4 linked regions of the Homo sapiens genome follow. The protein of the gene in region 4 purifies or fractionates together with the protein of the main gene of each other region. This does not show direct contact. Each region holds a gene or a part of one and is shown on either strand. Other genes may lie near its edges.

Region 1 (3,500 bases), on a different chromosome or scaffold from region 4:
CACCACACCCAGCTAATTTTTGTATTTTTTGTAGAGACGGGGTTTTGCCATGTCACCCAGGCTGATCTTGATCTCCTGAGCTGAAGCAATCACCTGCCTTGGCCTCCCAAAGTGCTGGGATTACAGGCATGAGCCGCCATGCCTGGCCAGCTCATCTCCTTCTTAACTTTGTTGTTTTTGTTTTTGTTTCTTTGCCCTTGCTCTTTTTCATACTCACCCTTTAGATAAGTAGTTCTCAAACTTTACCTTGTACAAAAATAATTGGGGAATTGGGAGTTGCTTGCTTAAAATGCAGATTTCCAAGACACCCAGAGTATCTGATTCAGTAGGTTGGTGGTAAAGCGAAGGATTCTACATTTTTATCAAACTCCTTGGGAGAGTATAATGCAGGTAGACCACACATAGTCTAAGAAATTCAGTTTTAGATATTGCCATCCTTCCAGCTTCTGTTCCAGTTTTTTTAAACTCTGTACATACACCTGAGCATCAGTTACCATATGTATGCTGAGAGTATCTGCATTCCTTTTGTAACTTAGTTTTTTTCTCCAGAGTTGTAGATTTAAGACCTTTTTTTTTTTTTGAGATGGAGTCTTGCTCTGTCGCCAGGCTGTAGTGCAGTGGCGCAATCTCGGCTCACTACAACCTCCGCCTCCCAGGTTCAAGCAATTTTTCTGCCTCAGCCTCCCGAGTAGCTGGGACTAGTTCACGTCAGAAATCTAGTTGTCTTTAATTCCTTAGTCTCCCTTAGCCATCACCAAGATCTTTGTTTTACTAATTATATTTTACTTCTTCCCATAGCTACTATCATTACTCTAATTCAGGCCACCTTATTATTGCCGCAGCTTCCTGTTCTTCTCCTTTGTTTTATTTAATTAAAAATTTTGAAACCATCCTGGGCAACATGGTAAAACCCCATCTCTACTAAAATACCAAAAAATTAGCCGGGCATGGTGGTGCGCACCTGTAATCAAAGCTACTCGGGAGGCTGAGGTGGGAGAATCGCTTGAGCCCGGGAGGTGGAGGTTGTAGTGACCCAAGATAGTGCCACTGTACTCCAGCTTGCGTGACAGAGTGAGACTCTGCCTCAAAAAAAAAAAAAAAATTGAATTCAGAAATAATGCATGGCATTGTAAAAATAAACATCCACCATGCCAGCATGGGAATATTTAATAAAGTGAAATCCCTCCACCTCTATGCACTCTCACTCCCCAGGGAAAGCTACCTTTAATAGTTTGGTGCATATCCCAGGATATGGTCCAAACTCTTTCTATTGACAAGGTTTTGGTGGCAGGGAGGGAGACAGATTCTCGAACATATCTTATGTGACCTGGCCCTTCCTCTCTAGCCTTATCTCGGGTCATCCTTGAGTACCCCACCCTAACCCTAGAGTAACACACACAGCCATACTGACTTAGCTTTTGTGAGCATCCCCAAATATGCCGTGTTCTCACTTCTTCTGGGCCTTTGCATATGTTGTTCTTCCCCCAACACTCGAGTCTAGCTGAGTCATACTCGTCATAATATAAACATCATTTTCTCAGTGAAGCTTCTGGTATGCCCAAATTTGAATAAGCTGTTCTATGTGCTTCCATAGCATCCTGAATTCCTTTATGAAAGGATCTACCATACTGTGTTGGGCCTACCTACTTAGGTAAATGCCACACTAGACATTTCTCAATGAATCCTTATAGTATTCAGTAATATTTTAGTCATCTGGGGACTAAGCCTAAAAGAAGCCTCAGACTTCCATGTCTTTAAAGCTTTGAGTCACGCATTATTGAATCAGCCCGTAGGCCCTCAGAAAAGGTGCACAGTAGATGAGAAGAGCCATAATTTCAGAGATCATTCCTGCTTACCTACTGTAGTCATGTTGTGTTATGCAAGGGAAATCATCCTCGCTGTCTTTGTACCAGTTTAGATATCTAAAAGGTCAACTTTAATGCGCAGGCATCAAAAAGCAAAAAGTATGGGGCAACAAGAGACAATGAAAAAGATAAGCAGAAGAAAATAATCAGAAAAAACAGAGGCGTGGTAGATGAGAAATGGCAGCTGCACTGTTGAGGAGGGATTAGAACCAGCTGTGGGGTTCAGCAGTTGTTGCAGTTTAGAAGTCACTCTGGTGAAAGTAAACAGAAGGCGCTCTGATAGTGAAGAATAAATAAGAGGGCTCACGAGCTGCTCACGTCAAAAATTAGAACAACTTTGCATTCCAAAATGTTAAGGAGCAGGGTGTAAGCTAAAACCTGCGTCTCAGCTGTACTCCTTGATAGCAGAAGTGAAAACAAGGGGAATGTCTGTGTGTGTGTGTGTGTGTGTGTGTGTGTGTGTCTCTTTTACAGACAGACACCCTAAAAGAGTTATCTGTGCTCGTGGAGTCTCCTCTCTCTTCCTTTTTTAAGCCCCCTCCAATTCATCCTTCATCCCTATAACTCTTGTCAAGATACCCAGAGCCTATGCTCAGTTCTCACTAATCTTAAGTTCTTAGCAGCCCAGCATTTGTCTTCATATCTTACTCAGCTATTTTCTTACATGCTTACCTAAAAGAGTGGCTGACACATAGTATACACTGAGGAAACACTGAGTAAGGGAGAGAGAATGTGTGCAACTAAGCAACTTTTTACACCTGTAATAGCTCTTACATGCATTAGCATACAGAAGAGCCAACACGTATTCCTGGTTTTTCTTCTCAGTCCCTGGCCCTGACTTCTCATTTTCTTCTGCTGAATTCACCTTTTCTTGATGAGTCTTAGGTGTTGGTGTGCCCCTTTTCTTCCCTCTGTACATATGTTCACCAGATGATCTTTTGCAGTCTCGGGGCATAAAGTACCATTTATATTCTAAAGACTCTCAAATCTTACGTGCAGTTTCAACTTCTTCCTGAACTTCAGACTCATATATCCAACTGCCTACTGAACATCACCATTTAGTTGTCATCACAAATACATCATGTCCTAAACTAAACTCTTGATTTTCTACCCCACCACACCTGATCTTCCCCCATTCACAAAATTGCCCAGGTCCAAAATTTTGGTATCTTCTTGACTCTTTCTCATATCTCAAACCCAACGTAGTAATAACTTGTCAGCCCTACTTCCAGAATGTTTCCTGAATCCAGCCATGTCTTTCCACCTCCATTTCTGTAATTCCAGTCAATACTGTCTTCATCTCTTTGCAGAACCTATGCAGTGGCTTCCTACCTGGTCTCCTTGCTTCTACTTTTGTCCCCTAGATCTGTTATCTCCAGAGCAGCCAAAGTAATCTCTTAAAAAGCACAGCTGGTCATGTCACTCCCTTTGGGATAGGAGGGAAACAAAGAACATCAGAAAATCTTCAGTAGTTTCCCATCATACTTAGATTAAAATCTGGAGTTTTCCTTATGGCCTACAAGGTCCTGTAAGATCTAGAACCTGGCACCTGTCTTCTCCTCCAGCCTCAGACACCACTTTCTTTCTTGTGTGGTGTGGTGTGCTCTGCCTCAGCCATACCAGCCCTCGGGATGT
Region 2 (3,003 bases), on a different chromosome or scaffold from region 4:
TTTGTTTTGTTTTGTTTTGTTTTGTTTTGTTTTGAGACAGAGCCTCACTTTGTCGCCAGGCTGGAGTGCAGTGGCGCGATCTCGGCTCACTACAACTTCCGCCTCCCGGGTTCAAGCGATTCTTCTGCCTCAGCCTCCCGAGTAGCTGGGACTACAGGCGTGTGCCACCACGCCCAGCTAATTTTTGGTATTTTTAGTAGAGATGGGGTTTCACGATGTTGGCCAGGATGCTCTTGATCTCTTTACCTAGTGATCCGCCCACCTCGGCCTCCCAAAGTGCTGGGATTACAGGCGTGAGCCACTGCACCCGGCCCAAATATTTAACATTGACTGTATGCCAGGGACTCTGCTGGGCACTGAGAGTGCAGCAATGAGGAAGAGCAGGGCCCATTCTCAGGAAGCTCAGGGGTGGGAATGGGAGGAGGGAATCAGAAGCAAGCCAACAGGGACAGTGTGGGGTGGGGGTCAGCTCAGCACACTGTAGGAGTCCCAAAAAGTGAGGAGACCTCTAAGCTGAGTCCTACAGGAGAAGCAAGAATAGAAGCAGGGCAAAGATGGGGGTCGGCCCATCATTCCTAGACGAAAGGCAGAGTTTGAGAAGTGGGGGCCAGATTATTTTGGAATCTGCCAATAGTGTATGGGGAGGTAGGGGTGACTTTCCCATAGTGGAGTGTGGGCTTCCTTGGAGGATTCAGGCTGTTGGGGAACAGGAGGGATGGTAAACTGCCTTTCAGCAGGGCTTGCTTCTAGGAAATTGATTCTGGCTGCAGTGAGCGTGGAGGCAGGCCTGGATTCCAGGCAGGCTTCTGCCACGTCCCAGCTGTGTGGCCCTGGACAAATCATTTCCCTCTCAGAACCTCATTGTCCTTGTCTGTAAAATGCAGACAGCAGTTGCAACGATCAAAATAAATATTTATATAAAGCACCTGGAACATAACAGGCACAGAGGGAGGGAGGAAGGCTGTGAAGCTGCCTCTGCCCCTTGCCCTGGGTCTTCCCCCACCCCTCCTTTCTTAGCTCCCCTGAGGTCACAAGAGTGTTCTTGACCATTGTTTATCAGGGAAAGATCACATGGAGAAGCCAACAGAACGGCCAGGAAGCAGCCTGGGTGGAACAGGGTTGGGGAGGAAAGGAACATGGGTACATTCTCAGCGTTCCAGGAGGTCTCAGGGTAAAGGCTGCTTGTGTGGGCAAGGGGAGCCTGGCAGGGAATGAGCTGGTCCCAATTCCTTCCCCTGAGCTGGGCCCTCAACCTTCAGAGGTGCTCCCTGGGACTGGTCCTACTTCCTCTGCCACCTCTGATCCCAAGGTGACTCTGCCAAAATCTGGGGGATGCCAGCGCTTGTGACGGTGTGACCAGGGAGGGGAAGTGTAAGTGTCTGGCCGTCCGTGGTGGCGGGGCCAGCAGGCTGTCCCAGCCCTCACCCGGAGCTCCTCACCCGGCACCACATCTGTGTTTTCCCAGGACCCACGCAGCCACCCAGCCTCAGCACTCATCTGCGCAGCCATGGAGGCCCTGGGACCTGGGGGCGACCGCGCCTCCCCGGCCTCGTCCACTAGCAGCCTGGACCTGTGGCATCTGTCCATGCGCGCGGACTCGGCCTACAGCTCTTTCTCCGCAGCCTCCGGCGGCCCCGAGCCGCGCACGCAGTCGCCGGGGACAGACCTCCTTCCTTACCTAGACTGGGACTACGTGCGTGTGGTTTGGGGCGGCCCGGGCCCCGCCCCGCCCGACGCTGCCCTTTGCACATCCCCGCGGCCCCGGCCCGCGGTTGCAGCCCGCAGTGGGCCGCAGCCAACAGAGGTCCCGGGGACCCCGGGACCACTGAACAGGCAGGCCACCCCGCTGCTGTACGCGCTGGCGGCCGAGGCGGAGGCCGCGGCGCAGGCTGCCGAGCCGCCCAGCCCGCCGGCCTCGAGGGCCGCCTACCGCCAGCGGCTTCAGGGCGCGCAGCGGCGAGTGCTCCGGGAGACGTCGTTCCAGCGCAAGGAGCTCCGCATGAGCCTGCCCGCCCGTCTGCGGCCCACTGTCCCAGCGCGGCCCCCGGCGACTCACCCGCGCTCCGCCTCGCTCAGCCACCCGGGCGGGGAGGGGGAGCCGGCGCGCTCCCGGGCTCCCGCGCCAGGAACTGCCGGCCGGGGTCCCCTCGCCAACCAGCAGCGGAAGTGGTGCTTCTCAGAGCCAGGAAAGCTGGATCGTGTGGGTCGGGGCGGTGGGCCGGCGCGGGAATGCCTGGGTGAGGCCTGCTCCAGCTCTGGCCTCCCTGGGCCCGAGCCCTTGGAGTTCCAGCATCCGGCGCTGGCTAAGTTTGAAGATCACGAGGTCGGATGGCTGCCCGAGACGCAACCCCAAGGCTCCATGAACCTGGACTCCGGGTCCTTGAAGCTCGGTGATGCCTTCAGGCCCGCCAGTCGGAGTCGGAGCGCTTCAGGCGAAGTCTTGGGTTCCTGGGGAGGATCAGGAGGGACCATACCCATTGTCCAGGTATGGAAGTCAGGAGATGCAGGCTGGTGAGGGGAGCATCTGGGAAACAAAACTTGAGCCACATTTCAGTCGACTGTTCACCCTTCCAGGCTGTTCCCCAAGGAGCAGAAACCCCCAGACCATTGTTTCAGACCAAACTTTCCAGGTGAGAGACACGGACCACTCTGGACCAAGTTGGGGGGAAGCAGCTTGCATAGCTTTTGCCCAAAAAATGAAAGGGCTTCCTACCTACCCTCAGTCTGAGCCTTCTGGTTATTTTGAAAATACCCTACTGTCTCCCTGGTGCAACACCAAGAGCTTCCTTCCTTTCACTGTGGTCACTATGGGGTCCCTGCCTCCAGGTTCTTGCCTCAGAAAGAGGCTGCGGTGATGTATCCTGCAGAGTTACCCCAGAGCAGCCCTGCTGACAGTGAACAGAGGGTCTCAGAGACCTGCATTGTGCCTGCCTGGCTCCCCTCCCTTCCTGATGAAGTGTTCCTAGAAGAGGCCCCACTGGTCAGAATGAGATCACCACCAGA
Region 3 (3,130 bases), on a different chromosome or scaffold from region 4:
CTTTAATAATGTATAACCTGGTATATGATAGGTATTGTTAAAATTTTACGTGAATTCGTAACAAGAAAGCAGATAGTTACTGATAAGCATTTCAGAGTTATATAATTAATTTTCTTGCTGACAGAACATAGGTGGCTCAAACTTTACAAATCACATTTATCTAGTTGAATCCCAATTATTTTAGAAATAGATGAAATAGATTAACTGAAACTCAGATACACATACATAAACAAAAATAATATACCCTTAATATTAAAGAAGACTTAGTCTCTGATCCAATTATTCACTTCTAGGTCTTGACTGATCTTACATTTTTAATTTCAGAGGACTTAGGTAAAATTTTGCTTACAGTAAAGCCTGGTTATTCATACAACTAATTGAGAATTTTCACTCATCTGATAATACAGGGGTGAAATGTTAAGACAGAACGACTTTGTGATTAAATGGAATAAATTTGATCAGCACACAATGAAAAAAGAAATCAACACAAGAAAGAAAGATGTATTTGAGAACATTTTTAATAAATAATGTGACAAAATTACTTTTCTGATTATTGGATTTTCAGTATGCAAAATTATGGCTAAAAATAAGGGGCTTCTTACATGAACATAATGAAAACATTAATCACATGGATTGTTCCCTTAGTACTGCACGCCTTTTCTATGGAACTTTTTCAAATTATCTAAATGAACAAGTTTGGTTTTGGTGAACACCAGCCTTTTTTTTTGTGGTTCAGTTTTGTTTGGCTTTGTTTTCCACTGGGGTCAGACCTGATACTTATCTATCTATGAATAAATGTACATTTTTTTCTTCAAATAGCACCAATTATAAAATCAATGATATTCATAAAATGACAAAAAAGGATCATAGAAATCTACTAGTCAGAGGGCATCATTTGTCAATTGAAAGCAAGTAATGCCTCTATTAGAGATTTTAAGGAAATCTTGTAGGTTTCGACATTGGCCACAACAAACTTAAACCTCTTTTTTTCTTTAAGTCCAGGAAAAGTAAGAACCATTTGGTTCATGGCCCACAATAAAGTATGCATGTTACTTCACCATCTGTCATTATTCAAATATTCCAAATACAAACATAGAGCATTAACAAAACAGGTTAAAAACGCTTCTCAACATTTTTTTTTTCAATAAGACAAAAAAGGTTAATAGTTACAATGGTTTACAAATAAAGTTTAGTGATTGTGCTTTTAAAACCAAAAAAAAAAAAAAAAAGAGAGAGAGATTAAAAACAGTGCATTACAAAAACAAAAATCAAACTTCCTTAAGTGGCACTTCTGAAAGTTGAACTGACACTACCAGAAGAAATTTAGGCCAGTTAAGACAGGGATGTTCTTACTCAATTGGTCATTAAAAACATCCACTTGTTTGTAATACGTATTTATAATTACTTTTTGATGATTGAAAAATAGAACAAGGTTTTACTAGGTTTACTTATGACAATGACTAGACAACCAGAGATCCAACTGGCTTAGCCCTACTTATCCAAAAGTACATTTCCAATAAGAATATACTTCAATGATTGAAATGAAGCCAAAATAAAATACCACCAGGGTTTGCAAAGAGTAAATATTTACAATGTTTCTACCCCATTCGAATTGTTTGTGGTTCTGCATTTGCTATATTTTTAGTTTCTTCCAGCAAAGGGTAGTATGAAAAACTGATTTTGAAATCATGTTAAAATGAAATATGTTTTAATTTGCATTAGCAGTTGGCTATAGAAAGATTATACTTTGAGAGCCCTTGTGAGGTTGAATATCAACTTTCTATATTTGATCAATATCTTGCTATAAATTAGCTTGGCATATAAGCAGTGCAATGCCATATCTCAGCGGCAAAATGCAAAAGAACAGTTTTGTTCCCTCTTGCTGGCTGATGACTGAAGCAAGAAGTCAAAGCACTTTGCTTGCTGGAAGTAAGGTATAATGGTTTGCTCCAACAGCGAGGGGAATAGGAAGGCTCTTTGTAGGGTTAGGGATCAAACAACAACAATAAAAACCCAATAAAGTTTTTAAAATGATATCCCAATAAGAGGAATAAAAACGACAATTTGTACACTCTGATTGCACTGAACATTTTATCTGGCGTCATGTGTCATCTGACAGGAGGCATCTTGAGTGATGATTTTCACATTAGATCTCATAAGCCTCTTGGTTGTCTTCAGCTTTCAGTTTCCTGTAAGAGATACGTTATTGTCACATTTGAAAATAAATCTTAAGAGGATTGTGTTATATTTATTTATATGCATTTATTATTATTATAATTTAATGTGTCTTTTCATTTATTCAATGGACTATGTTGGAAAGGGCTCATGTCAACTAATTCATTCATCAACCTTAATTGGTCTTCACAGCAAATTCAACAAGTACCAAACTGGGTTCTGCACAGTGCCCCGGTGTTGCGTGGTGGGACACAGGGCTCTGAGAAGCGGGAAGGAATGTGTTGAGTTATCTAATCCCCTCAGCCCCAAGTCAACATTACAACTCTGCTTTTGTTGGTTTTAAATACTGGAGTTAACAGTAAGGCCATTCTGTTCCCCCAAAAGGCTACTTCTATTTTAAAATAAACTAAGACCTGAAAAACAACTTCTCTGTTTGCAGGAGGAAAGTCTTTCTCATTCTAAACCTCAAAATCGAAATACATTGAGCTTTATAGGACTTTCAATTAGACATAATGGCCTATACCTTTTCAGCTTCTACTATAAAAAGTTGTCATTTGACACGTATTTATCTACTTGAGTTTAACTATATTTATTAAAAAATTTTCCTCAACTTTTATTAAATTGAGAAAATACAATCTTTGAATGGGTGAGGGGAGAATTTATGATATGTCAAGGCTAACAAGAGAGTATATCTTTGACGTAAGAAGTTTCCTCCAACTGGGGAGGTCAGTGTCACAGACTAGGCATACACTTTCAGAAGTGTAAAGGTGAAGGACAGTTAGCCAAACCAGCCACATTACCCTGGTGCTGACTATGGCAACTTCCTCACTCACATCATATAACTCTGTCATCTTACTGGGTTTTTATAGCCTGCTACAATGCTATGAATTATAATAGCTCTAGATCAACAGCTCTTACTTCTTAACAATGTGTTTGCCATATATGTTTCTTATCT
Region 4 (3,500 bases):
TGGGCCCCAGCCCAGTTCCCCAGGCCAAGGCCATGACTTTTTGTGTGTCTTTGCAATGCTGCTAGGCCTCTTAGATGATGTCTGCATATCAGACAAAGGAGAATGGTGTTTCAGGATGAGACGCATGATGGTGGGAATATGCCTAATGCTACTGAACTTTACACTGACAAGTGGCTGAGATAGAAACGTTTATGTTGTGTGTCTTTCGCAATTAAAAAGAAAATGGGGCTGGGCGCAGTGGCTCATGCCTGTAATCCCTACATTTCGGGAGACTGATGCAGGTGGATCACCTGAGGTCAGGAGTTCAAGACCAGCCTGGCCAACATGATGAAACCCCGACTCTACTAAAAATACAAAACAACAACAAGGAAATTAGCCGGGTGTGGTGGCAGGCGCCTGTAATCCCAACTACTCAGGAGGCTGAGGCAGGAAAATCGCTTGAACGTGGGAGGCAGAGGTTGCAGTGAGCCGAGATCGTGCCAGTGCATTCCAGCCTGGACAACAAGAGCAAAACTCCATCTCAAAACAAAGAAAATGGGCCGGGCGCAGTGGCTGACATCTGTAATCCCAGCACTTTGGGAGGCCGAGGTGGGTGGATCACCTAAGGTCAGGAGTTGGAGACCAGCCTGGCCAACATGGTAAAACCTCATCTGTACTAAAAATACAAAAATTAGCTGGGCGTGGTGGTGCACACCTGTAATCCCAGCTACTCGGAAGGCTGAGGCACAAGAATCGCTTGAACCGGGAGGTGGAGGTTGCACAGTGAGCTGAGACCGCACCACTGCACTCCAGCCTGGGCAACAGAGTGAGACTGTGTCTCAAAAAAAAAAAAAAAAAGAAAGAAAGAAAGAAAAAGAAAAACGGCCAGGTACGGTGGCTTAGGCCAGTAGTCCCAGCACTTTGGAGAGCCAAGGTGGAAGGGTCATTTGAGCCCAGGAGTTCAAGACCAGTCTGGGCCACCTAGCGAGACTCCTTCTCTACAAAAAGTAAAAAAAATAGCCAGGTGTAGTGTGTGCCTGTGGTCCCAGCTACTTGGGAGGCCCAGGTGGGAGGATGGCTTGAGCCCGGGAGTTCAAGACTGCAGTGAGCTATGACCATGCCACTGCACTTTAGCCTGGGCAACAGAGCAAGACTGTGTCTCCAAAAAGAAAAGAAAATGGTGCTTTCCCTTCCTACTTATTACAGTAATTGACAGGAACAAAACAATCAAGGGTGGACCCAGAGGTGTACAGTGAGGGCGTGGGCATGTGTCCTCCTGGGACGAGGGAGATCTGCCAGCAGGGTGAGACACTGTGACAGAGGTCTTGGAGTCAGGACAGGTGAGGACGCCGTGCCTGCCTGCACCTCACAGAGGCCAAGCGGCCCTTCTGTTGGTACTTACTTGAGATTTTCTGAGCCCATCCAAACTTGTAGTGGACAAACAGGAAGTAAAATAAAAGGCCGCTTAATATAAACAGCACACAGTAGAGGTACTCCCAGGTGGGCTTGCTGATGATTGGAGCCAGAACCAAAAACACAGAGATGAGTGTCATCAAGACGGGAATGACTACGGGCACCTGGAGACGAAAAACAGGTCATGGGTACCCATTTTCTTTTTGAAATTTTTCATGATAAAAAACCGATTTTTATAAAAAGAGTATGAACTCCATGTACCCCCTCCTCCAATTTCAATCATTTTAATGTAATTTTGCCAATCTTATTTCATCTATACCTTTTAAAAATTTTCTTTACTTTTTAAAAAGTTTTTTGGCCGGGCATGGGTGCTCACACCTGTAATCCCAGCACTTAGGGAGGCCGAGGCCGGTGGGTCCCTTGAGGTCAGGAGCTCAAGACCAGCCTGGCCAACATAGTGAAACACCATCTCTACCAAAAACACAAAAGTTAGCTGGGCGTGGTGGCAGGTGCCTGTAATCCCAGCTCCTCAGGAGCTGAGGCAGGAGAGTCGCTTGAACCCAGGAGGCAGAGGTTGCAGTGAGCCGAGATTGCACCATTGCACTCTAGCCTGGGCCACGGGAGGGAAACTCCATCTCAAAAAAGAAAAAAAAAAATAGATAAACTGTTTAATGTTTTAGCATCCACTGATGATCGTTGCCTTCATTGTTTCATCAGGGTTTGCAAAATGGTGATTTTTCTAATTTGTAATTTCTTCCTCAATTATCTGAAATGCTATATGAAGTACTTCAACTTTCTGGTTATTCTGAATTGCAGTTCATACAGGAAAGGCAGGATTAGTGCTGTATTCTGTGTGTTTCCAGAATGACAAGTTGGGCCCCTGAGACCTCCAAAGGCAACTCCAGCCTGTGGGTTTTTCTATACATGGTGAGTTTCAACCCGTTGTAGTCATTGTTCACGTTGTTCAGAAGGTCCTGTGCGGGGCGGCAGGAACCCCTCACACTGTCCTGGGCCCTGGGAATGGGACGCCAGTGCTCTTCAAAAGCCTCTTTGTTTTCTGGGTGACAAGAAGTGCCATACCTGGGTTTTCATTTATCTCTCCAGAGCCAGACGTGGGTTTTCATCCATTTCTCCAGAGAGCTTTGTTTCCTTTTAGCAGGAAATGGCATTTAAAGACCATAACCTGGAGGCTGGCTGCAGTGGTTCGCTCCTGTAATCCCAGCACTTTGGGAGGCTGAGGCAGGCAGATCACTTGAGTCTAGGAGTTCAAGATCAGCCTGGCCAACATGGTGAAACCCCGTCTCTACTAAAAATACAAAAATTAGCCGGGCGTGATGGCAGATGCCTGTAATCCCAGCAACTTGGGAAGCTGAAGCAGGAGAGTCGCTTGAACCCGGGAGGCGGAGGCTGCAGTGAGCAAAGAATGTGCCACTGCACTCCAGCCCAGGAGACAGAGTGAGACTCTAAAAATAAATAAAGACCATAACCTGGGTGATTGGAGTACTCATTATCCTTTTTCAAGGACAGAGATTAATTTTGGTATTCTCTTATTAGGAACAAAGTTAAGTTTGCTGGGATTGTTTTGTTTTCATTTTTAAGTGTCATTGCATTTTTCCTTTGACTGTGTTTTTTTGTTTGTTTTGTTTCCCAAGACAGAGTCTCGCTCTGTCGCTCAGGCTGGAGTGCAGTGGCGTGATCTTGGCTCACTGCAACCTCTGCCTCTTGGGTTCAAACAGTTCTCCTGCCTCAGCCTCCCAAGTAGCTGGGATTACAGGCGTGTGCCAACATGCCCAGCTAATTTTTTATTTTTAGTAGAGACAGGGTTTCACCACGTTGGCCAGGCTGGTCTCGAACTCCTGACCTCAAATGATCTGCCCATCTTGGCCTCCCAGAGCGCTGGGATTACAGGCATGAGCCAATCACACCCAGCCCCTGAATTAAACTTTTAATTAATGGATTTTCGGTCTTCAGCTACCTTTGCATAGGCTGGACCTAGTCATGATATATTATCTTTTTAGTGTAACTGGGTTCTGTTTGTTAACATTTTATTTTAGATTTTTTATATCGTTATTCCTAAGTGAGATTGGTGAGTACATTTCCCTTTTTTG

The links. The genes of interacting proteins can lie anywhere in the genome.
Region 1: the proteins of SLC7A9 (region 4) and TTC17 purify together in Homo sapiens (affinity purification with mass spectrometry; one large-scale study listed by BioGRID and IntAct). This does not show direct contact.
Region 2: the proteins of SLC7A9 (region 4) and SHROOM1 purify together in Homo sapiens (affinity purification with mass spectrometry; one large-scale study listed by BioGRID and IntAct). This does not show direct contact.
Region 3: the proteins of SLC7A9 (region 4) and ROBO1 purify together in Homo sapiens (affinity purification with mass spectrometry; one large-scale study listed by BioGRID and IntAct). This does not show direct contact.

What each region holds. Positions count from the first base shown.
Region 1 is NC_000011.10:43,365,420-43,368,919, forward strand, and holds part of TTC17 (tetratricopeptide repeat protein 17 isoform 1 precursor), read left to right. Parts: intron 1-3,500. UniProt on the Homo sapiens protein: Plays a role in primary ciliogenesis by modulating actin polymerization.
Region 2 is NC_000005.10:132,824,645-132,827,647, reverse strand, and holds part of SHROOM1 (protein Shroom1), read left to right. Parts: exon of another isoform or gene 1-40; 5' UTR 41-187; exon of another isoform or gene 188-1,060; 5' UTR 1,061-1,371; exon of another isoform or gene 1,372-1,465; 5' UTR 1,466-1,507; coding exon 1,508-2,485; intron 2,486-2,574; coding exon 2,575-2,630; intron 2,631-2,826; coding exon 2,827-3,003. UniProt on the Homo sapiens protein: May be involved in the assembly of microtubule arrays during cell elongation.
Region 3 is NC_000003.12:78,596,739-78,599,868, forward strand, and holds the end of ROBO1 (roundabout homolog 1 isoform a precursor), read right to left. Parts: intron 2,190-3,130; coding exon 2,175-2,189; 3' UTR 501-2,174; downstream 1-500. UniProt on the Homo sapiens protein: Receptor for SLIT1 and SLIT2 that mediates cellular responses to molecular guidance cues in cellular migration, including axonal navigation at the ventral midline of the neural tube and projection of axons to different regions during neuronal development.
Region 4 is NC_000019.10:32,831,768-32,835,267, forward strand, and holds part of SLC7A9 (B(0,+)-type amino acid transporter 1), read right to left. Parts: intron 1,557-3,500; coding exon 1,382-1,556; intron 1-1,381. UniProt on the Homo sapiens protein: Associates with SLC3A1 to form a functional transporter complex that mediates the electrogenic exchange between cationic amino acids and neutral amino acids, with a stoichiometry of 1:1.